Linked DNA regions of Homo sapiens. The protein of the gene in region 6 purifies or fractionates together with the protein of the main gene of each other region. This does not show direct contact. Each region holds a gene or a part of one and is shown on either strand. Other genes may lie near its edges.

The links.
Region 1: the proteins of DNAJC12 (region 6) and TUBB6 purify together in Homo sapiens (affinity purification with mass spectrometry, with the first as the bait; one large-scale study listed by BioGRID). This does not show direct contact.
Region 2: the proteins of DNAJC12 (region 6) and PCDH7 purify together in Homo sapiens (affinity purification with mass spectrometry, with the first as the bait; one large-scale study listed by BioGRID). This does not show direct contact.
Region 3: the proteins of DNAJC12 (region 6) and CDK8 purify together in Homo sapiens (affinity purification with mass spectrometry; one large-scale study listed by BioGRID and IntAct). This does not show direct contact.
Region 4: the proteins of DNAJC12 (region 6) and FKBP5 purify together in Homo sapiens (affinity purification with mass spectrometry, with the first as the bait; one large-scale study listed by BioGRID). This does not show direct contact.
Region 5: the proteins of DNAJC12 (region 6) and CAPRIN1 purify together in Homo sapiens (affinity purification with mass spectrometry, with the first as the bait; one large-scale study listed by BioGRID). This does not show direct contact.
Region 7: the proteins of DNAJC12 (region 6) and MLLT11 purify together in Homo sapiens (affinity purification with mass spectrometry, with the first as the bait; one large-scale study listed by BioGRID). This does not show direct contact.

What each region holds. Positions count from the first base shown.
Region 1 is NC_000018.10:12,314,741-12,318,240, forward strand, and holds part of TUBB6 (tubulin beta-6 chain), read left to right. Parts: intron 1-3,500. UniProt on the Homo sapiens protein: Tubulin is the major constituent of microtubules, a cylinder consisting of laterally associated linear protofilaments composed of alpha- and beta-tubulin heterodimers.
Region 2 is NC_000004.12:30,919,369-30,922,868, reverse strand, and holds part of PCDH7 (protocadherin-7 isoform d precursor), read right to left. Parts: intron 2,717-3,500; coding exon 2,500-2,716; intron 1-2,499.
Region 3 is NC_000013.11:26,393,629-26,397,128, reverse strand, and holds part of CDK8 (cyclin-dependent kinase 8), read right to left. Parts: intron 845-3,500; coding exon 775-844; intron 1-774.
Region 4 is NC_000006.12:35,573,916-35,577,415, reverse strand, and holds part of FKBP5 (peptidyl-prolyl cis-trans isomerase FKBP5), read left to right. Parts: intron 1-182; coding exon 183-422; intron 423-1,473; coding exon 1,474-1,581; 3' UTR 1,582-3,500. UniProt on the Homo sapiens protein: Immunophilin protein with PPIase and co-chaperone activities. Component of unligated steroid receptors heterocomplexes through interaction with heat-shock protein 90 (HSP90).
Region 5 is NC_000011.10:34,086,231-34,089,730, reverse strand, and holds part of CAPRIN1 (caprin-1), read right to left. Parts: intron 3,427-3,500; coding exon 3,318-3,426; intron 337-3,317; coding exon 275-336; intron 1-274. UniProt on the Homo sapiens protein: mRNA-binding protein that acts as a regulator of mRNAs transport, translation and/or stability, and which is involved in neurogenesis, synaptic plasticity in neurons and cell proliferation and migration in multiple cell types.
Region 6 is NC_000010.11:67,807,189-67,810,688, reverse strand, and holds part of DNAJC12 (dnaJ homolog subfamily C member 12), read left to right. Parts: intron 1-3,500. UniProt on the Homo sapiens protein: Probable co-chaperone that participates in the proper folding of biopterin-dependent aromatic amino acid hydroxylases, which include phenylalanine-4-hydroxylase (PAH), tyrosine 3-monooxygenase (TH) and peripheral and neuronal tryptophan hydroxylases (TPH1 and TPH2).
Region 7 is NC_000001.11:151,063,397-151,066,720, forward strand, and holds part of MLLT11 (protein AF1q), read left to right. Parts: intron 1-3,324. UniProt on the Homo sapiens protein: Cofactor for the transcription factor TCF7. Involved in regulation of lymphoid development by driving multipotent hematopoietic progenitor cells towards a T cell fate.

The DNA.
Region 1 (3,500 bases), on a different chromosome or scaffold from region 6:
ACACAGAGTCAACTGTGAGCTCAGCTGTGGCTGAGAATTAATTTTAGCTCTGGGTTTCTGGCAACTAAATCCAAAAAAGGAAGCACAGCAGGTGACACAGCTGACATTGTCTCATAAAGGGGAATATATGCTTTTAATATATTTAAAAGGGAGCTCTCCCCACCATCCTGAGTGATTCGTATTTATTTTTAATTTGTACTTTGCTTTGCTTTTTAAACTTTGCTTTTTTTTTTTAGCAAAAACTAATATAACCACACTCTTAAAAGTTTAAAACTAGAGTTAAAAAAAAATTCTGTATGTTCATCATCTTAGTGTAATTATTGTCAGCACTGAGGTATTTTTTTCACCTTTGTTTCTTTTTGCTGACTCTCATTATTGTAATCATGGTATCATTTATATCTTTTTCCATTGAACATTATATTATAAACCATATTTCACATTTAGTTTCTAAAATCCATAATTTTTAATAGCTCCATAATGTGTAATTAATTCTTTATGCAACTTTATAATGGCCAATAATCAGGAAGCTGTTTCTTTTCAGCTTTTTGCTCTTAAAAGGAATATTGAACATCTTGATTCACTTAAATTTGTCTGTTTCTCACTTTGATTTCAGAATAGATTCTCAAAAAGCAAAATTACTGGGTCAAAGAGTGAAGAGATTTAAGCCCTTTTTACACACTTCCAATTGGATTAATGCCACCAGCAGTGTCTGAGAGCGTAGTTTTTGCTGCACTTTTGCCTGAAATTAAACTTTTCAAAGAAACGTAGCAACTGAATGCTTATTTTATGAGAGACTCAGGGCTTTAAGAACTACTTTATAGGAAATGTAAGAACAGCTCTGAATTTGGCCCTTCTATTCTACACTGACGTAAATTGTCAGCGTAAAACAGAGAAACCTGCACACATATCACGCCAGGACTCACGCATAGAGGAGCCGGAAGGCAGGACATTAAAATGCAACTCAGCGCACGCTGCACTGTTTCCCAGGGGAAGGGTGGTTAGCCGAAACTCATGCCACACCCATTACTGCTTTTTGAGATAAAATAGGAAAAAAGTATATAATTCTACATAGTTGAGTAAGTTCACACTCACACTTGTTACACAGGGCTTCATGTACCAGTGGCCGGTTTTATTTCTTAAATGGGTAGTAGGTGTGTAGAGATTCATATTATTTTTCATATGCTTTTGCATGCCTTAACTCTGTCAAAAAAAAGATATCAGTTGTCTCAAAGGTGTGGTCACGGAAAAGGCAGCTTTCATGGAGAAGGTTTTCAGCAGGTCATGGCTGTCTGGCCCCGGCCCAGTCTGCCCCAGGCCTGGCAGCAACTGAGGGACCCAACCCAGTCTGGATGGGTGCCCCGAGGAGGCCTCACCCACCAGCAGTCAACGCAGTGCAGCCAGGACCTGGCCAGGTCTCAAGAGAGAGTCGAAGCCATGAACTGATCTTTATGACATGAGTGCATCACAAACTATTGAAGTGGTGAGAAGCTAGTTTCTCACAGCTGCCACTTTAGCAATTGTGAGTTTTCTTTGGTTTATTTGAATTGAACATTGGGAGAGTGTAAGGTCTTTCTAGCTGTTGACAAATGGGATCACGAAGATTAAGACAAATTAAGACAGACCTATGGTGCCCATTTAGTTATCTAATTGTCCCTGTAAGCCTTCAAAAATGTTAGAAATGACCTTTGGCACATAAAAACTGTCCCCGAAATTGCTTCTTGCATCTTTGCTTCATCTGACTTGCAACCCTATTTTTGATTCAGAATGTTTTAAGTTTTCAACAGGTTGTACTAACATGATATGTCTTTAATAGGAATTTTAGCAAGTTGACACCATTTTGAGTTAAGAATTGTGACTTGTTTAAATGAATATGCTTATTTGTTAAAATAACATATTATGGAGAATGGAGAAGTATCCAGAATGTATAAACATTCTATATTGTTTAGCTAAATAGTTTTTAAGTCGTTCTCCAGTAAAAGAGGCAGAATTGTCTGTGAACTGGAGATGATCCATCCTCACTGGCTTTATACCATATTGTTCCAGTTAGAGTTGGTAAATTACAATAAACCAGTGTCATTCCATTTCCAAATAGAGTTTGAAATGATTTAGGAAACACTCACTTACATTAGTAGTGTATACTTTTAAAAGTGAAAGTTACCTGTAATTCCAGCACTTTGGGAGGCGCAGACAGGCAGATCATCTGAGGTCAGGAGTTCGAGACCAGCCTGGCCAACATGGTGAAACCCTGTCTCTCCTGAAAATACAAAAATTAGCCAGGCGTGATGAGTGCCTGTAATCCCAGCTACTCGGGAGGCTGAGGCAGGAGAATCACTGGAACCTGAGAGGCGGAGGTTGCAGTGAGCCGAGATTGAGCCATTGCACTGCAGCCTGGGTGATGGAGTGAGACCCTGTCAAAAAAAAAAAAAAAAAGAAAACTTCCCAGTTGGGCAGTGGCTAATGCCTGTAATCCCAACACTTTGGGAGGCTGAGGCAAGTAGATCACTTGAGCCCAGGAGTTGAAGGTCAGCCTGGGCAACATAGTAAGACCCTCTGTACAAAAAGTTTTTTTAAATTAGCTAGGCGTGGTGGTGTGCACCTGGGGTCCCAGCTATTCAGGAGGCTGAGGTGGGAGGATCACTTGAGCTAGGGAGGTTGAGGCTGAGGCTGCAGTGAGCGGTGTTTGCGCCACTGCACTCCAGCCTGGGCGACAGAGCAAGACCCTGTCTCAAAAAAAAGAAAAGAAAAACTTCTGTAATGAATTGCTGGTTGCATAGCAGTCATACCTACTCTATTGTTGGAAAGTTTTGTGGGAAAAGAATGAAGCACCAGAAAGGTAAACGTTCTTCCAGCCTCTTTCTGTATTTCTAACTTTTTCTTCCAGATTCAGGGCTAGAAGAGGGGGCAGGAGTGCACAGACCCTTGACACTTATTCCATCACCCATTGTGAGCTTGAAACCAGAGGGGGGACTCAGAGAAAACCCTGGGGACCTGTTGCAGCCCCACTGCCAAAAAGCTTAGAGTTGGCAGCCTCCTGCTAACTGTCTGGAGTCACTGACTAACATCACACCGTATCAGTACAGAAGATGTTCAGTTCACAACTCCCAAATATTTAACTGGAACATCTGTTGCTATGAGACAGTGGCAAAATATTTTTCAGAAGTCACCAGCTTCCTCCTTTCATCAAGAGCACAGAAAACTTCATGGCTATTCATGCTATAAATATTGAGGAAGCTGGGTAAATGGTGTGAGCTGCAGAGGGAGTCAAGTTCAGCATCTCCGTCCACTTACAGCTAGCTCAGGTCTGATTGATTGGGGTTCTATGTTTGCCAAAAGCCACCTACTATTTTCAGTTGTTGGTTTCTGCTATTTTAATGAAATAGGTCCCAGGCTATTTTGACAGCTGCCCTGGGTCTTTCCTTTGTAAAATGTGACAGTTCTAGCACCGAGTGTGGACCAGCCCCGAGCTTGTTCCTCCCAATACCTATGTTGTAGTTTTGCCA
Region 2 (3,500 bases), on a different chromosome or scaffold from region 6:
TTACTCAAAGGTCAACTGCTACATTTAGATCAGCCACAGTGCATCGCATCTCATTTTGTCATTACCTATAGATCAAGGCTAACATGAATCACAGCCAGTAGATGACAAATGGTCATATAAACTCTGACTTTCAAGTGTTGGTCACATACAAAATCAGGAAAGATCCGTTACATTATCATGACCCTTGCTTTTGACAGGCCTTAAAAACTTGGTTCTAAAAAAGAATTAAAAGTCGTTTTTTGGAACTCTTTCTCAGTATACTTTATATTTTATTAACAAGCTCACCTGTTAAGTTTTCCATGACATGTGTGTTTCCTAAAAGGTAACCGATATGTGTTTGTCATATATAATTATCTTTTAATTATTCATCATTTCTTTCTTATTTTAAAGGTGATGAATCCCCATAAACTCATAAAACAGAAACTAACATTAAAAAATGATTATAATGCCAGTGGTGCAAAGTCCTTTTTTAATAAAGCTGACATCCAAAAAATAAAGATTTAATTGTACATTCTGTGCTTTACAGTAAGAATAAGCACTTTTAAAAACACAAACAAAATTATATGTTCTCATGAACAGGTAATCTCAGATGTAGTAATACCCCTAAATTAAATTAATCCTGCCTTCCTAGGTATGCTCTATTTATCATCTATCTATATTAAAAATACTGTAATTACATACATATGTACATATAAGTAATTATATGTACTATATACATATTATATATTACATATATCACACATACGTAATTACACGTTACACATATGTAACGTAATACACTATAGTACATGTGACTACATACATGCAATTACATGTGGCTACATACATGTAATTACATAATTATCTTTTAATTATTCATCACTTATTTCTTATTTTAAAGGTGATGAATCCCCATAAACTCATAAAACAGAAACTAACATTGAAAAATGATTATAATGCCAGGGGTACAAAGTCCTTTTTTAATAAAGCTGACATCCAAATTACATATGTAATTACATAGTATGTATGTAATTACAGTATTTTTAGTTTAATTTCTTTTTCCAAATAATTTTAAACATATCTGCCTTAAATATATATTCATCAGCATTGCAATTCATACCAAAATTATATGCCCATTAAAAAAATTACTAAAAAAAATGTAACTCTTAGAAACCACACCAGACTCCCATCCACATAAGCACACACCACCATACACACAGATAAGCATGCTTTTATAGCCATAAGGCAAAATGCCATTTTAACTCTGCAAAATTAATCAAGAGGGACGTCAATCATCAGACCCTGATATCATATTTTCTTAACCAAGAACAATGTGGATAAATAATTATTTAGCATAATATAATTTAGCAATACTTTCATTTGGGGTCCTTTATAATATATTATATTCTAATATTGGATTTTAATATTCATAGGTAAACTTACAGAAGAAAATCAGTCTTTCTCCTGCATTAATATGCTCTACTTGCATATATATCAGCACTAAAGAAACGGATATATAACAAAAAGTTAGAGCGTCTTATGTCACTCGGGGGTTGAGATGGCAAAAGACATAAATCCACTGCAAGTTTTACTAGGGATAAAATGTGTGTGATTCCTTTCCTTTCTCTCTGTTTAACCATCTCTCTCTTCATATTTGAAAGAATAATGAAGTTAGGATGAATTTTACCATTCCATTATTTGACACAAACCTATTCCTCAGGCATTTACTTATGACTCAAAATCCAGAAAATAAATCACCAAATTATCTCTGGGAATATAAACAAATGTGGAAAGTTTTATAAGTGCTATTTGCAATCTAAATGTATAACTTAAAAGAAAATGTATACAAGGCCAATTGTGGTAATTATGAGAATCACCTCAAAACAGTATAAAAATATGGAGTATTATGATTTATTTTCCTTCCTTTCTCTCACATAAAAATAAAAAAAAACCTTATACTTGAATAGGAGGGAAATTCTAATAGCATTTATTGCATACTATGGAGAACAAAGTAGTACTGTTCTCTTTTGACCCTATTCAGTGATCATAGGAAAGGAGAGGTTTGAAAATGCTTTTCTAAACATCTAGGACAAGAAAAGGTAGAGCAAGGTATGTTTCTTTCATTTCCTTTCACTAAGACTGGACAGCTGCAATTGAAGAAATAGTTGCATGACAAAAATGAATAGAAGAAAACAATTAGACAAGACCTTTCTTGGTGACTATTGTTTAGGAATTCTGCACTTATTTAGCTTCCTTCATAGTGGGCCCTGTTCTGATTTATTTATAAGTGCGTTTATTTCTGACAGGATGTTTTAAAATGATGGTGCAATTTGGGTGAATTTTATCTACAGAGTTATGTTCCTTTATTTGGCATTTCTGTATTTTAGCAAATATTTATCACTTAAAATAAAATGGTTTTAATGTCAGCTATTTTATTTTGGTTTTAGACTGACCTTCGCGAGTCTACTTATTACGGCTCACTAGCGTGATTATGTGTGTGGATGTTGTGTTTGCCCCTACCATTTTCCATATGCTCTGCCTCACCAACACTGCCATCCGGCGTGGTCCTTTCATAGTTGTCCTCTGGGAGTGGAAGCGCACCCAGTCTTGGCCCTGATGAACTCTTACTGCTTGGTGTTTCTGACTCCTCCAGCCCGCTGTCATAGCAACTCTGCAGTGACCCCTGATGTGGGTCCTGAGGCTGACTCACAACAGAAAACGTCACTCTACGAAATGGCTGCAAAAGAAAAGATTCTGAATGTCACTACGATGTAAGATTGTAAATGATCTTATTTTAAAAAATACATAAATTACATACATTAAGGTCTACTGGCAACTAATTCAATACAAAATGAATAGATATGTTGAAACTGCATTAGTTAACTATGTATTATCTAAGGCAATGTCTAGAGCTTAGATTTTATTATGGAAAAACTGGAAATTCCCTTTCAGAAACAGAGATAAAAAAACAGTAATTTCACTAAAACATACATTTAAATCTGATATGTTAGTTCCACATATTCAACCTTTTTCTATTCTATAGTATTCACTTCAGATATGCTTTCCAGAAATGGCCTCTAAAAAAACAAGGTCAGTGATTTGTGAAGGCAGTAAATATTGAACTAATCCATTGTAAGAAGACTCAATTTTTAAATACTTTGTCCATATCATACAAAGCTATAAAATCAAATGGGTTGGCAGTTGACTTAAACTGTTCAAAGTACAGCTGACAAATAGGAATTTAGATGCAGTGCTAGGAAACACAAATATGTTTATTACATCATTCCTATAAAAATATTGCCTATGGACCTTGAAATTGTAAGAGTCATATTGCAATAATAGATAAAAGTATCCCTAAACAGTGAGTAGGAAATAAACTATAAAGTTTAATTGTATGTTCTTAATATTACTGTTTGTGATTCGTTCAATAAAGTAAAATCATGTACAGCCTTTAATTTGTTTTTAAAAAATTTTATGAAACTATCCAGTTGAACTCCACAATTTACTATGTTACTGACAAT
Region 3 (3,500 bases), on a different chromosome or scaffold from region 6:
GCTATATTAGACTTGAGGTTAATTGTACATTGGCTAAAGTCCTTCTGATGAGAATTATTTTGATCATAACCGATATAAAATATATATTGAAAACACTATGAGCATAAAATGAGTAGAATTAAATCAGTTTTCTATTTCATTCAATATCCACAATGGTCACTTTTGAAAGGATACCGATGATTAAATGTAAGACAATTTCATGAATAACAGACACTAAACAGCTTTTTTTTTCACATGAATTATATTTTAACAATTATTTTAAATAACATCTGGGTCAAAAGTTTAATTCAGCCTTACCAATAAGTGTAAAATACTTTTGTCATAGGTATACAAACTAAACTCTCCCAATCCCTGGCTTTGCATTGTAAACAGGTGAAATATCCATTCTTCTCTGTTAAAACCTGCTTAAAATTACTGTAACCTAGATTGGTGAGCAAGTGGCTATTACCAAAGTTTATTTATTTAGATTCTTATTTATTCAGCTGTGATACTTCTCACTAATGTCTAGCTTCCAAAAAGTAGTCAATATGGAAAGACATGAATTTGTTTTATATCCAAATCAGCTGCTAATATTAGTCACTTTTGTATATAATCATTTAAGCATCTTAAGAAATAAAGACTGTCATCATGAAAAATATTTATTAGAGTAAATAAGTAAAATTATTTATTAGAGTAATCTTATATTGAGTATTTTATTATGTTGAATATTCAGTCTTACACTGAGTATTCTGGTAAAGCAAAAATCAACAAGGAGTCTCTTTTTTTCCAACTTACGTATTTCTTCTGAAATCTTTCATTAATGTTGAATGTTCAGGCATCTTTTTTATATCTTCCCAATCTTTATCTGTGAAATACATTGATAAATTTTTATGTTGCCTAAGTTCCTATTCTTGAGAATTTTTAAAAAGGTTATTACCACGTTCATTACATTTCCTATCCGTTCAACCTCCACACAAAAAAGCTGTCTTCAAATAAATGTTCAGCAACAGTAAATATCTTGAAGTGTAAACATAATTCCTTATCCCTTATATAACTTTATATATCTGTTTATATTTTAAATTTTAAACTGCAAACTTTCTGTATGTTTTACTATAAGCTGCCTCAATTTCTGTCACTAGAGAAGAATAAGTTATACATATTTCTATTTATCTTATTAAATGTCCTCTTTCTATTAGTAAAACTGCTTATTTCCCCTTTTCTACCAAATTTCTTGGTTAAGTCAGCAATCAATTTCTTCAATGAGAAATCTAAGATCTTCCCCTCAGTGGCTTTAAACTATACTTCTTTTTATGATACAGCCCTCCTTTCACCTTGTTAAATATATTTCTTTACATAAGCAATCAATGGAAGAAGGGGTAATAACTATTTGCACAATAGGGTAGGATATAATTAGTATATTAATAAGTGGGCTGGTACCTTGGCTAGTCTGGTTAACATTACCCAAAACAACCCCAGCTCCTAAATACGTTAAGTACAAAACGTTTCAGCTACTTTTGCTGGCATCCAAGTTGCTCAAACAATACATGCTACATAATGTGTTCTCTCCAATATCTGCCAATGGGTTTTCCTGAGAGTCTACTAGGTGCAAAGGACTGTCACAGGCAGCTTAACAGCACCTTTAGCTCTTTTTTTTTTTTTTTTGAGACGGAGTTTCGCTCTTGTTAACAGCCCAGGCCGGAGTGCAATGGTGCGATCTCGGCTCACCCCAACCTCTGCCTCCCAGGTTCAAGTGATTCCCCTGCCTCAGCCTCCAGAGTAGCTGGGATTACAGGCATGTAATCCCATGCCTGTAATACATTACAGGCATGTAGCCACCATGCCCAGCTAATTTTGTATTTTTGGTAGAGACGGGGTTTCTCCATGTTGTTCAGGCTGGTCTCAAACTCCCAACCTCAGGTGATCCGCCCACCGCGGCCTCGCAAAACCTTTAGCTTTTAAATGGCCTTTAGAGGCTTGCTTTTCTTTGAACTTACTTGTAAAAATATTTGGTAACTATCCTCCAAAGACATCACATATTGTAAACTAAACATACACTACACTCCTAAATGGAATTTTCTCCTTAACTATTTTCCTTGCTCCAATTTCTGTGTTTTATCAATTTCTCATGCTAGAAATTTTAAGATAATCTTTAGTTTTCCCTTGCTTATACACTTCCTATAAAACATTTCCATCTGCCCTTTTTTCTCCATCCTTATCTTCACTCTACTTTCTGTCTGCAGCACTGCTACAGCTGGTTTCTGATTTCAGTTAGCTCTTTTTAACAGATTTTTACCTACCACCATCTTACTAAATCTTTCTAAAATGCAACATAAAGCATGTCTCTAGTACTCAAGAACTGATGGATTCTCATTCTTTAGCTATCAAATCTAACCTCTGCTGCCTGCTTTCCAAGCTTCCTTATAAACCACCCTAACCTCTGAACCACATATTAAGAGTCACTGATAGACATCTTCACCACATCTACTCCCTCACAGAAGCTATGCCTTTCCCGTGGGCTCAGAAATGGTGGACACATTCAGAAGCAGGAAGAAAACAGAATTCTTCTGTCTCTACTCAAAACCATACCTACTTTTTAAACATTCTACATATAGCAGTACAATGCAAACTCCAAGGGGGCAAAAATCATGTCTGTTACATCATCAATAACTTTTTACTTAAGACAGTGCCTGGCACATGGCAGGTACTCAATAAATATTTACTGAATAAATAAAATTCCCATCACAACAGAAGTCTTCTCCACACTGGTGACCAATTTTGGAGAAAGGCAGTATCTGTGTAGTTATTCTGCATTTACTGATAATTAACACCCTTACAAGGGAATGTAGAATTAAAAGTCCCAGGTATTATCTCTATTAGTCTTGAGTTTATAGTGACCTGAGAAATATTCCTAATAAGAAACACTTTCTACTAAGTACTTGACTAGCCAAAATTTAGGTGTTTTAAACAAATTCTCATTATTCTGGACCTCTGAGCAGTTTTTGGTGATTACCGTTCTGTAATATAACTAGGGATTGAGATACAGTTGGAGAGATCTAATACCAGGGATAGGATACATGTAAACCATCTCTCTGTTGCAAAACAGCAGGCTAACTCACCATAGGGTACTATGACTCTCACCCACATTGTGACTGTTCTAAGAGAAGACTTAAATGCTATTATTCAATATAATGTGATTCTGTATAGTGCCCTAAATAGAAATAAGGTTCAAAATTTATATTTGAATGCCAAATAGTGGCAGTATTATATGTGCTGCCAGAAAAAAATTCCTACTACTGAATTCATTTATAGTTTCTACTGGTAAGAGCTAAAGGTACCTTTTTAATACAGATATTGAACATATTTTATCATTTCAAATACCAAATAACAAAACAAAAAAGTAAAACAAGATGAAACAAAAATACAGTCCTGAAATTCAGGAAACCCATAAATATTTCCATGCCAATATGTAAACTCTACAAATTTTGCTGTTTCTACGGATCTTTGATAAATGCAAGTCAAAA
Region 4 (3,500 bases), on a different chromosome or scaffold from region 6:
AAATTGCATTAAATGCAGAAAATAATTTGGGTAGTAAATTTTGATCAGTAGTATGTAATTATCTTGAGCCCCATTTTTTTAAATACACTTTTTCCATCTCCTTTGGCAAGAGAACTTTGGTAAGCTGTTTACTGAATTTATTAAAATTCGTCCTTTCTAAAATATAGACCATCTATTCCTAGGCCCTTGGACTGGACAGTGCCAATGAGAAAGGCTTGTATAGGAGGGGTGAAGCCCAGCTGCTCATGAACGAGTTTGAGTCAGCCAAGGGTGACTTTGAGAAAGTGCTGGAAGTAAACCCCCAGAATAAGGCTGCAAGACTGCAGATCTCCATGTGCCAGAAAAAGGCCAAGGAGCACAACGAGCGGGACCGCAGGATATACGCCAACATGTTCAAGAAGTTTGCAGAGCAGGATGCCAAGGTGTGTGCAGAGCCTGATGACTGCAGGTGGATCAAGAGCCTGACCATGCCCCTTTGATTTTAGGGGACAGGAACAGCTAAACAACCCAAGAGGCTCAAGAGCAGGGAAAACGATTTCCAATCTAATCTGAGGCTGCTTTGGATCCAAAGGTCGAGTAGGGCAGTTCCAGTCACCAAAGGCACACGTCATGAGAGATGAGAAAACTAAATTCCCTTCAGATGTATTAGATTGGTTCAAAAGTAATTGTGGTTTTTACCATTACTTTCAATGGCAAAAACAGCAATTTTGCACCAACTCCCCCCGCCCGCCCCCCGGGCCCCTGCCCGAGTCAGAGTCTCACTCTGTCACCCAGACTGTAATGCAGTCGTGCTAACATGGCTCACTGCAGCCTTGACTTCTCTGGATCAAGTGATCCTCCCACCTCAGCCTCCTGAGTAGCTAGGACAAGCACACTACCACACTGGGCTAATTTTTTAAAATTTTTTGTAAAGATAGGGTTTCACTTTGTTGTCTAGGCTGGTCTCGAACCCCTGGCTTCAAGGGTTCCTCCTGCTTTGGTCTCCCAAAGTGCTGGGATTATAGACATGAGCCACCATGCCCAGCCCTTTTGTCATTTTTGAAAAATTGTAAACCCATCAGGATTTTTTTTTCAAGTAAGACTTACGATTTTCCCAGGAAATGGGATGTTATAGGAGCCCCATCATCACACCTGTTATCTTGAGGGTCGGCAGCCAGCCTGAAAAATGTGGCAGGAGAGGTCTGTCTGCAGAGAGGGCGGCCTCCCTACAGCATAGTTGGCATTCTGGTCCTGTCCCCAGTCTCCAGGAATGCCCAGACTTCATTATCCCACAGCTGTCCCATGTGTCAACCAAAGAAAGGTGAAGCTCCCACTCTAACTATTGGTAGCACAGCCCTGACCTACCCAGCTAGATATCCTAGAGAAAATCATTGCAATACCTCGTGTTTGGGACCTGATACACAGTCTGGAGGAGCCAGGAATTATTTCACTTCTTTATTCTCTAACCTTCTTGATTGCTTATTTCTTCCTTAGGAAGAGGCCAATAAAGCAATGGGCAAGAAGACTTCAGAAGGGGTCACTAATGAAAAAGGAACAGACAGTCAAGCAATGGAAGAAGAGAAACCTGAGGGCCACGTATGACGCCACGCCAAGGAGGGAAGAGTCCCAGTGAACTCGGCCCCTCCTCAATGGGCTTTCCCCCAACTCAGGACAGAACAGTGTTTAATGTAAAGTTTGTTATAGTCTATGTGATTCTGGAAGCAAATGGCAAAACCAGTAGCTTCCCAAAAACAGCCCCCCTGCTGCTGCCCGGAGGGTTCACTGAGGGGTGGCACGGGACCACTCCAGGTGGAACAAACAGAAATGACTGTGGTGTGGAGGGAGTGAGCCAGCAGCTTAAGTCCAGCTCATTTCAGTTTCTATCAACCTTCAAGTATCCAATTCAGGGTCCCTGGAGATCATCCTAACAATGTGGGGCTGTTAGGTTTTACCTTTGAACTTTCATAGCACTGCAGAAACCTTTAAAAAAAAAATGCTTCATGAATTTCTCCTTTCCTACAGTTGGGTAGGGTAGGGGAAGGAGGATAAGCTTTTGTTTTTTAAATGACTGAAGTGCTATAAATGTAGTCTGTTGCATTTTTAACCAACAGAACCCACAGTAGAGGGGTCTCATGTCTCCCCAGTTCCACAGCAGTGTCACAGACGTGAAAGCCAGAACCTCAGAGGCCACTTGCTTGCTGACTTAGCCTCCTCCCAAAGTCCCCCTCCTCAGCCAGCCTCCTTGTGAGAGTGGCTTTCTACCACACACAGCCTGTCCCTGGGGGAGTAATTCTGTCATTCCTAAAACACCCTTCAGCAATGATAATGAGCAGATGAGAGTTTCTGGATTAGCTTTTCCTATTTTCGATGAAGTTCTGAGATACTGAAATGTGAAAAGAGCAATCAGAATTGTGCTTTTTCTCCCCTCCTCTATTCCTTTTAGGGAATAATATTCAATACACAGTACTTCCTCCCAGCATTGCTACTGCTCAGCTTCTTCTTTCATTCTAATCCTTGCTATTAAGAATTTAAGACTTGTGCTTACAATATTTTTGACCTGGAGTGGATCTATTTACATAGTCATTTAGGATCCATGCAGCTTTTTTTGTCTTTTTAAGATTATTGGCTCATAAGCATATGTATACTGGTTTATGGAACTTTATTTACACTCCTCTATCATGCAAAAAAATTTTGACTTTTTAGTACTAAGCTTAATTTTTAAAAACAAAATCTGTAGGGTTGACAAATAAATAGTTGCTCTTCTACACTAGGGGTTTCACCTGCAGGTTTGACACGCAGTTGCTCGCTTTTCCTGCCCTGTCAAGCTTCTCTGTTCTGGCGTGAGTTGTGAAAGAGTTGAAGACAGCTTCCCATGCCGGTACACAGCCAGTAGCCTAAATCTCCAGTACTTGAGCTGACCATTGAACTAGGGCAAGTCTTAAATGTGTACATGTAGTTGAATTTCAGTCCTTACGGGTAAACAGATTGAGCATGGCTCTCTATTCCCTCAGCCTAAGAAACACTCATGGGAATGCATTTGGCAACCCAAGGAACCATTTGCTTAAACCTGGAACATCTCACCTTTTTAAATCCTAAAAAACACTGGCAGTTATATTTTAAATTAGTTTTTATTTTTATGATGGTTTTATCAAAAGACTTTTATTATTAGATTGGGACCCCCTTCAAACCTAAAAATCAAGTTATTTCCTTTTATAATACTTTTCTTCCCCATGGAACAAATGGGATCAATTTGTGAGTTTTTTCCTTTAATGATAACTAAAATCCCTCTAATTTCTCATTTATGCTTTTGTCTTTTTTATGAAATATTTCTTTTAAAAGCCCCAGTCTCACCTACGAAATATGAAGAGCAAAAGCTGATTTTGCTTACTTGCTAAACTGTTGGGAAAGCTCTGTAGAGCATGGTTCCAGTGAGGCCAAGATTGAAATTTGATACTAAAAAGGCCACCTAGCTTTTTGCAGATAACAAACAAGAAAGCTATTCCAAGACTCAGATGATGCCA
Region 5 (3,500 bases), on a different chromosome or scaffold from region 6:
ATTTGCTGAATTCCAACAGAAGACTTGGACACTGATGAAATTCTTATTTTCTTTCATAAGCTAAGAAAGAAACCAAGGAACCAATTAAAACAAAAGTGAAAAAATATTTTTTAATTATTTTTTTAAAATAGAGATGGTGTCTCGCTACACTGCCCAGACTGGTCTTGAACTCCTGACCTCAAGTGATCCTCCCATCTCAGCCTCCTAAAGTACTAGGATTATAGGTACGAGCCACCTAACCTGGCCCTGAAGAAAATAGTTTTATCACTCTTACCTGTGTCGCTTCTGGTTGTACAGGAACTTGATTAGGCTGAGCAAGTCTAGATTCAGAATGAACTGCAAAGGTGACCAAAACATTTTTGTCAAACAAAATTAAATTTTTAGAGAGACGCGTCTAAATACCTTTTATTTCGCTATTAAAGGCTTTTTTTTTTTTTTTTTTTTTTTGCGGGGGGGGGGGGGGGGGGAGTGTCTCACTCTGTCACCCAGGCTGGAGTACAGTGATGTGATCTTAGCTCACTGCAACCTCTGCCTCCCAGGCTCAAGTGATCCTCCCACCTCAGCCTCCCAAGTAGCTGTGACTACAGGTGTGTGCCACCACACTCGGATAATATTTGTATTTTTAGTAGAGACAGGGTTTCGCCATGTTGCCCAGGCTGGTCTCAAACTCCTAGGCTCAAGCAATCTGCCCACCTCAGCCTCCCAAAGTGCTGGGATTATAGGAATGAACCACCATGCCCAGCAATTAAAGGTAAATTTCTATAGCCAAACCATAAATAAACTTTTTAGCAATCATGAAAGTAAATTGGGAAATGCAGATAAAATTTTAGCTTTCAAGTGAGCATTTTGGTTTACCGGCAGTGGTTATTATTTAATAGTTTACTTTCACAATTGGTTTCATCTTGTTTTTTCCAAAAGTAAAGTAAAATGTTAATAGAATGCACTAACAAATAATCAGTGCCATGAAAAAAGACTTTTAAAGCTGTACAATAAAGTGGCATTATTCATACTCTAGACCTCAGACAGATAGTATTCCATTTTGACCTTTTGTTTCTTCTGAAACAGGGTCTCACTGTGTTGCCCAGGCTGGAGTGCAGTGGCGCCATCATAGCTAACTGTAGTCTCAAACTCTGGGCTCAAGAAATCCTCCCACCTTGGCTTCTTGAGTAGCTGGGACTATAGATGCATGCCACCCTGCCAAGCTAACTTTTTTATTTGACTAATTTTTAATTTTTTTGTAGAGGCGAGGTCTATGTTGCTCAGGCTGGTCTCAAACTCCTGGGCTCAAGTGATCCTCCCTCCTCAGCCTCCCAAAGCACTGAGATTACAGGCATGAGCTACCATACCCGGCTCAATATATGTTAACATAACCAACTTTCAATTTCAAGTGTTTCTAGAGAAAAAGAAAATTTAAAATATGTACTTTTCGGCCAGGCACAGTGGCTCATGCTTGTAATCCCAGCACTTTGGGAGGCCGAGGCGGGTGGATCACGAGGTCAAGAGATTGACACCATCCTGGCCAACATGGTGAAACCCCATCTCTACTTAAAATACAAAAATTAGCTGGGTGTAGTGTGGTGTGTGCCTGTACTTTCAGCTACTGGGGAGGCTGAGGCAGGAGAATCCCTTGAACCCGGGAGGCAGGGGTTGCAGCGTGCCGAGCCAAGAATGCGCCACTGCACTCCAGCCTGGCGATAGAGCGAGACTGCGTCTCTAAATAAACAAATAAATAATATATACTTTTTAACAGCCTATATTCAACTCAGCATGCATCTTCTTAACAATTCCCATCACTCTCTCACCTCCCTTCCCAACAATGATTAAACAGATAATCAAAACGACGATCTTTGGTTAGTCATTTAGAAAGTACCCATTTTCACTGGAGAGTCTAATGGACTCAGCATTATGTAAATAACTAAATAGCCTTACAGGTTTTATCAGTGCTATGTATACTGACTTTCACACAACTCCCCAGCTGAGAAAACGACTTACTCTCTTCCTTTGGTAGAGCTCAGAAAATGAACACTAAAAACCATGATTGCTCTCTTGTAGGTGTCACCTTTGATCTGTTTTCTAAAACTCTTGATAGAAATGTGAGAGCCGGGCGCGGTGGCTCACGCCTGTAATCCCAGCACTTTGGGAGGCCGAGGCGGGCGGATCACGAGGTCAGGAGATCGAGACCATCCCGGCTAAAACAGTGAAACCCCGTCTCTACTAAAAATACAAAAAATTAGCCGGGTGTAGTGGCGGGCGCCTGTAGTCCCAGCTACTTGGGAGGCTGAGGCAGGAGAATGGCGTGAACCCGGGAGGCGGAGCTTGCAGTGAGCCGAGATTGCGCCACTGCACTCCAGCCTGGGCGACAGAGCGAGACTCCGTCTCAAAAAAAAAAAAAAAAAAAAAATGTGAGAGATATGAGCTCCCTTTACTTCAGAAAAATCCTAACTACCTTACACCAAATTAACTGTCATTAAACATACTTTTACTCAGCAATTTATTTTATGATATTTAACATCATGCAACATTAAATAGGTTATTTTATTTAGTTCCACTTTTGTGCAACTAAAACTGATGTGTTCTGGGAAAAACCAAGATGACTCACAATCACTAATAGTCCTGGAGAGAAGGTCCACTTAACCCAATGGAAGGCACCAACTGTATTTAGTGCTACTACTTCAAATAATGGTGTAAGTCCAGAAAGAGTCTGAAACTGTCTTGTGGTTTCTCTCTTCCCTTTGCCTCTTACATATTCCCTTACCCACTTCATTGCTGTGTATTTTTTTAAGGTAATAAAATCCAGAAATTCTCCTAGAAAGCTAAAAGCATTCAAAAAAAGGCACCTCTATTATTTTTACTCCTAGATTAATTTTGAAATTTTAAAAGCCAAGCAAAATTTCACTTGTTAAAGTTACAAAAACAGACAAAACTGGTCTATTACAGTTACAAGTACGGAAGTGGTTGCTATCGCTAGGGGTGAGGGTAACTAGTGATTGAAAGGAAACAACGTAGGTTTCTGGGGTACTGGTAATGTTTCATTTCTTAATCTAGCTGCAGGTGTTTTCAGTTTATAAAAACTCATTAAACTTGCGTATATTTTTCTATATCTACATGCCAATGAAAAGTTTAAAAATAAACAGTTATAAACTACATTTTTAATTCAAATCATAGGAACAATAACATTCTTTCTATCAAATTAAAAGACCTAAGAGTCAAAATTAAACAGTCATTAAAATAAACAAAATTTATTTTCACAATCTTTTTAAAACCTGAAAGTACTGGCCTTATATTTCTCTCTCACATAAAAATGTACCACTACTAACCTGGAGGGCAAACCAGCTGGGGCATGTCCATGTTTTGTGTTGGATTCATAGGCTGTGCAGATACAATGGCAGGATCAAGTGTCTGATTTTCAAAATCCAGCATTGAATCCTACAGGTTAAGTTAGGATAGAATAAAGTCAAATAATATAAACACTTAAACTTTCTGTTACAGAGTCTGACTAA
Region 6 (3,500 bases):
ATAAAAGACCTCGGCCTCCCAAAGTGCTGGGATTGCAGGCATGAGCCATCGCACCTGGCTAGATTGTTAAATCTCATAAATTCCCTTTCCTTCACACCATCAACCCTGTGTTTCTGCTTTTTGTTTAAATAGTATAATCCCTCTGGAACGGAAAAGCATTGTTTGGGAACATTATTAGTCCCTATACCCACAAGGCAGGACAAATCACGGTGTACTTTTGTAGCATCACACACAGGATCATATCTTGGGAATTTCCTTTGGGAGAATTCCTCAAACGAGCCACAGCCTCAGGGGTGCCACATTTTTTTAAATTAAAAACTTCAAAAAATTTTCAATAGCTTTTGGGGTACAAGTGTTGATATGGTTTGGATTTGTGTCCTGCCCAAATCTCATGTTGAATTGGATGAGGGTCCTGATGGGAGGTGATTGGATCATGGGGGCAGATTTCCCCCTTGCTTTTCTCATGATAGTGAGTTCTCATGAGATCTGATGGTTTAAAAGTATGTGGCAGTTCTACCTTCTCTCTCTTTCCTGCCACCATGAGAAGAAGGCCCTTTCTTCCCCTTCACCTTCCGCCATGATTGTAAGTTTCCTGAGGCCTCCCAGTCATGCTTTCTGTTAAGCCTGAGGAACTGTGAGTCAATTAAACCTCTTTTCGTCATAAATTACTGAGTCTCAGGTAGTTCTTTACAGCAGTGTGAAATGGACTAATACAAGTGGTTTTTAGACACATGGATGAATTGTATGGTGGTGAAGTCTGAAATTTTAGCGCACCCATCACCTGAGTAGTATACATTGTACCCATTATGTAGTTTTTTATCCTTCACTCTCCGTCCCAGCCTCCCACTTTGAGTCTCCAAAGTCCATTATATTATACCACTCTGTATGCTTTTGTGTATCCGTAGCTTAGCTCCCATTTATAATGGAGAACATACAATATTTGGTTTTCCATTCCTAAGTTACTTCACTTAGAACAATGGCCTCCAGGTCCATCTAAGTTGCTGCAAAAGATATTATTTTGCTCTTTTTTAGGGCTGAGTAATATTCCATGGTGTATATATCCACCACATTTCTATCATCCAGGAGTGATGCAACTGAACTGGTATTTTTTCCCTACACTAAGTCTGTCACTTTACTACCTACTTATTTATTTCTTTTTGTTTTCTAGAAGTTCCTCCTGCTAGTTTAATTGGTAAAAATATTTTAAGACCTCACCCAGGTCAATGAATATGTTGGCGATTTAAATTTAGACATGTAGTATTGGTTTGAAAAAAAAGGTTTGGAGTGAGGATTCAGTAATTCAGGCCTTTGGGATCCTGGGATAACCTGAAGAGTTATCCCAGGATTCCAGAGAATCTTAGGGAAATGTATCTTTGTCATGCTAAATGGTTTTACCCAAAGAGACCCAGGGTGTGGATGGCTCTCCCTCTAGCACCAAAATATATGGCAGCATGGATTTAGGATGCCTATGGGAAAAAGAAGCCACAGCAAAGGCACAGTCAAAATGAATGGCTAAAAAAAATTCTCATAAGCCGTTAAAACTATCTTATGCCACTTCAATTGCTGTAAATTTTATAAAGAGTTAATAGAAACACATTTTTGGTGAATTGATCATTTGACAAATTGATTGCCTCTGGGAGGGCTTGTTGGGTCAGCCTCGTGTGGACCTATTTGTCTGCTGATTGTTTCTGGGTTCCCAGCTGGGCAAGGTGTCTTTGGGGTGGGTTCAACTGGCCATAGACTACCTATCCAGAAAGCTTCCTACACTATGCCCACATGGCCACAGTTTCACCAGCCAGATGGGAAACAGTATGCAATTCAACACCTTCTGCTGGTTCAAAAGGCAATCTGTCTTAATTGGATGTTATCCAAAAGCAGGTCAGAAATCACCCTGATAAGTGAAAAATCCACTCATGGTGATCACTGATCCAGGATAATAATAACCAGTCAATTTTGTATAGCTATTCAGCTGATCTATGGCTCATCTGAGTCCATGGATTTAAAAAAATGTTGTGCCAATGTTTACTGGCATGTAAACAAAATTTTTTATTTCCCTGTGTGTTTGTGTGTGTGTGTGTGTGTTTTAATGGAATGCTTCGCGAACGTGCCTGTTGTCTTTGCACAGGGACCATGATCATTTTCTTTGTATCATTCCAATTTTGGTATATGTGCTGCTGAGACGAGCACTATTTCCTAGTATTGACCAAGGTCTAGAATGTAAGAAAATGACTTCCTAGAGAAAAAAAACCAACTCGTTCAAGAAAGCTAGTAAACAAGTTAATTGTGAAGGCAGAATAACAACATAGAAATTTCACAGACTGTTAAGATTAGTGGCCTTTGCACCTAGGCTTGCTGTCTGTTTAGCGTTAGTTCCTTCCATGCATATATAGATTTTCTGTCTTGTGCATTTTATTATCTTGCTGTAGACTCTCCCCTTTCTAGTCTCTCTCTTAGTCTGTATCAATTGCTGTCATTTGATATCTTTTATTGATGCTGATTCTACTGAAATGAGTAGCTGCATAATAGACTAGTTCGCTTGATGTTAAATGTTGTTCTGTGCAACTAATACCCTTGTGGAGTTGAGAAATATGCTTGTGAACACAGAAATGAGTGATTTGCAGACTATCTAACTGTGTCCCAGCAAACCAGGCTGCTTAGCATCACTCTGATGTTAGTCCTTTGATTGAACTACAAAGCGTGAGAAGCACTTGTATCTAAGGTTAGATACAGTTTGGATATTTCTTCTGTATATTTCTTTAATGAGGATCAGCAGATATGGGAGTCTGATAACATATTTTATTCTGATTTACTCACAAAGGAGATGGATAAGACTACTATTTCAGAACATCTTTTCACTGAGGACCTTTAAAGCATTTACTGTGGATTAGACATTAATCCTAACCTATCTAAGACAGACCACAGGTACTTTGATTTCAAGAGAGAAGTACTGAGGCACAGAGATCAATACATCACGTACAGGCCACTTTGCTGGCTTGTGAAGCTCACAGTTTACATTTTCAGCTCTCTGGGCCCTGAATTCTTGAATGTCTTATTCCTTGTTTTTCACTAACCTTCCTAATATCCTTTTCCCTCTGCAGAGGAAGTCACTGGCAGCCTCTTTTATTTTGTGCATATGCAAAAACCAAACCAAAACAACAAACCTAAACCAACCAAACAAAAGTCATTTTTTTTTTTAATACCAGCTGAGGCATTGCCTCTTTTAAAAATTAACGTTTTTATTTTGAAATAAAATCTACAGAGAAATGGGTAATACTTGCATTTACAATTTAGCAAATGGTTTTGAAGTGTTTACTCTGTAACTATTCCCTTCCCACACATATTGTTGGCACCAGGAATCTCCCACCTTGTATGTTTTTGCATCGAAACTTCGCCTAATTTTTAAAATTGAATATTTTCTTTTTTTTTTTGAGACAGAATCTCGCTCTGTCACCCAGGCTGGAGTGCAGTGGTGCGATACCAGCTCACTGCAACCTCTGCCT
Region 7 (3,324 bases), on a different chromosome or scaffold from region 6:
CTAATGCTTCTTTTTTTAATTTTTATTTATTTATTATTATTATTATTGAGACGGAGTCTTGCTCTTTCGCCCAGGCTGGAGTGCAGTGGCGCTATCTCAGCTCACCGCAAGCTCCGCCTCCCAGGTTCGCGCCATTCTCCTGCCTCAGCCTCCCAAGTAGCTGGGACTACAGGCGCCCACCACCGCGCCCGGCTTAATATTTGTACTTTTAGTAGAGACGGGGTTTCACCGTGTTAGCCAGGATGGTCTCGATCTCCTGACCTCGTGATCCACCCGCCTCGGCCTCCCAAAGTGCTGGGATTACAGGCGTAAGCCACCACGCCCGACCACAACTAATGCTTCTTGACCCTTGGCTAGTAAGTAGCAGGGTGGAGGCTGTAGGCAGCTCTAATAGTCCTAAAATATCAGGCAGGGCTTGGGTAGAATGAGTAGAGAAAGTGATAGATCCATTAACGCATGGAAGAGTATCTGATTCTGTTAAAATACCTTCTTCCAATCTGAACTTTACTTTAAATCCAAATGGATTTCCAATCCATTTGCTCTCATTATCATCAGTATACTCGAGCACTGGGATCAGAGAAAAGAGATCCCTGTTACAGCATAGGAAAGTTATTTATTTATTTATTTATTATTACTTTTTTTGAGATGGAGTTTCGCTCTTGTTGCCCAGGCTGGAGTGCAATGGCGAGATCTCGGCTCACTGCAACCTCCACCTCCCAGGTTCAAGCAATTTTCCTGCCTCAGCCTCCCAAATAACTGGGATTACAGGCATGCGCCACCTCGCCTGGCTAATTTTGTATTTTTAATAGAGACAGGATTTCACCATGTTGGTTGGGCTGGTCTTGAACTCCTCACCTCCTGATCTGCCTGCCTCGGCCTCCCAAAGTGCTGGGATTATAGGCGTAAGCCACTGCACCTGGCTAGGAAAGTTCTTTTAGCACCTAGGTTTTGTTCTGAAGGAGAGGTAGGCTAGAGAGAAATGGATTGTTAAGGCTTACCTGTGGGCTAATATAAGGGAATGGCAAGGTATTAATTAAATAGTGAGGGAAAGTTAATCAGCAGCCTTGAATGGCTTTGTGTACAAAGCCCACCACTTGTGTACAGAGAAAGTAGATTGGTCTTTACCCTTGGGGAAACTCCTAGGTATGGGGACAGATTCTGGAAAAGAATGATTATTTGCAATTCAGTGGAACTGGTGAGGGAATGCTAATAGGAAAATCCAAGCTCTGACTGAGGCACGCATGGTGAGATGCCAGAGAGCTTCTGCTCCCCTCTACCACCACCTTGTCCTCCCCCTTTCCCCATGGTGGCAGCATGACACAGCAAGGCCCTGTTGAGTAGGCCTTGGATGCCCACAAAGGGTCTGGACAAAGGATGTTTGGGCGTGTCTGTGTGGCTCCGAGAGAGTGTATCTTTCTAATCTACATATTTGCTAATCATGTATCTCTAAGAACAGAGTGATAATTAGATATTGCCTTTGCCTAAAATACCTGGATAATTTAAAATGAAGGATAATGGGAAGCATTTATTGAATATATATTGTGGTACAAGGCACTGTCAACCCTTTAAGTAAATGATACCGTTTAAGATAATGATAGATGTAAAGATAGATGAAGTAGGGGTGGAGAGCATTTGTGGAGGGGAAGGGGAAGCTAGCCAAAAAAGGGGTCTTTTGCAAAATTTGGAGTATTTGATAATTAAATCCATACTATATTAAATCAAAAATTTCATTACTATTTACATTAGTGAATAGCACTTTAACTTCAATTTTCTGTGTAGTCTTATTTTATGTTCTTGACTTGATTTTAATGCCACATATGCTTGCATGCATGTGTTTCTTGAATGTATTTGGTACCCTGTGTACATGTCTCTGGGTCAATGACATAGAGGTTTTAGGCCTTCTGAGTTAATATTTCATAACATTTGCTTTAGCTTTTTAAATTGCAAGATAGCTCTGCCAAACCCTCAGGGACTATTTGAGCAGTTTTTTATTCATACTCTGGTTTTAAGACAAGGGGTCAATTTGTCAAAGAGCTTTTTGTTTTTCTCAGATTCTAGCTTGCTCTCTACTGCCCTTTGCTTTTCCCCATTCAGAAGGCAATAAGGCCATCCCTATACATAAAATACATTAACAGTGATCTGTAATCCCAAACTGATGGAGTTAGGTAAAACTCTACAGGGTGTTGGGGGAGATGCTGGAGGAAATAGAGTAGATGAAGCTGAGTAAAAGTTTAAGGAAGTCATCTGCAAGAGGTGAGTTTATAGTAGGATTTAGAAGGCAAGAAGGAAAATAGAAAGCAGAAAAGTCACGGAAGGTCTTTTCACACATACCATGAGCTATTAAACCAAAGTCAGGAGGAAGTCAAGTATTTTTAAGTATAATAGGAGTTTGGGCTAGGGGAACGGGGGTTCCTCTATAGACTTGGAGTTTTTTGTTTGTTTTGTTTTGTCTTTTTGTTTTTTGAGACAGGGTCTCACTCTATTCCCCAGGCTGGAGTGCAGCGGCACAATCTCAGCCCACTGGAACCTCTGCTTCCTAGGCTCAAGTGATTCTCCCACTCAGCCTCCCAAGTAGCTGGGACTACAGGCGTGCACCACCAGGCCCAGCTAATTTTTTGTATTTTTTGTAGACGGAGTTTTGCCATGTTGCCCAGGCAGGTCTGGAACTCCTAGTCTCAAGTCATCCGCCTGCCTTAGCCTCCCAAAGTGCTGGGAATACAGGTGTGAGCCACTGAGCTCTTGAATGGAGTCCTGAAATGTGGAAAGTCTTTTTTTTAAGACAGAATCTTGCTCTGTTGCCCAGGTTGGAAGGCTCACTGCAACCTCACCCTGCTGGATTCCAGCAATTCTCGTGCCTCAGCCTCCCTAGTAGCTGGGACCACAGGCACAAACCACCATGCCTGGCTAACATTTTGTATTTTTAGTAGAGGCAGGGTTTCCCCATGTTGGACAGGCTGGTCTCAAACTCCTGGCCTCAAGTGATCCACCCACTCTGCCTCCCAAACTTCTGAGATCACAGGCATGAGCCACCACACCTGGCTGAAATGCGGAAAGTATTTTAAGGTGGAGAATGGAGAGAGTTAAGCAAGACAGGAATGAGCATAACTGTAACAGAGGATATACCACTGCTGGGAAGAATGGGCTAGATTTTGGAAGGCCTTGAAAATCAGACCCAAGATCAATTTGATGCAATAGATGGTAAATAAGTCATTCCAAGATGGGAAGTTTAGAAAATAGTAGAAATTCGGCCGGGCGCGGTGGCTCACACCTGTAATCCCAGCACTTTGGGAGGCCGAAGCAGGCAGATCACGAGGTCAGGAGATC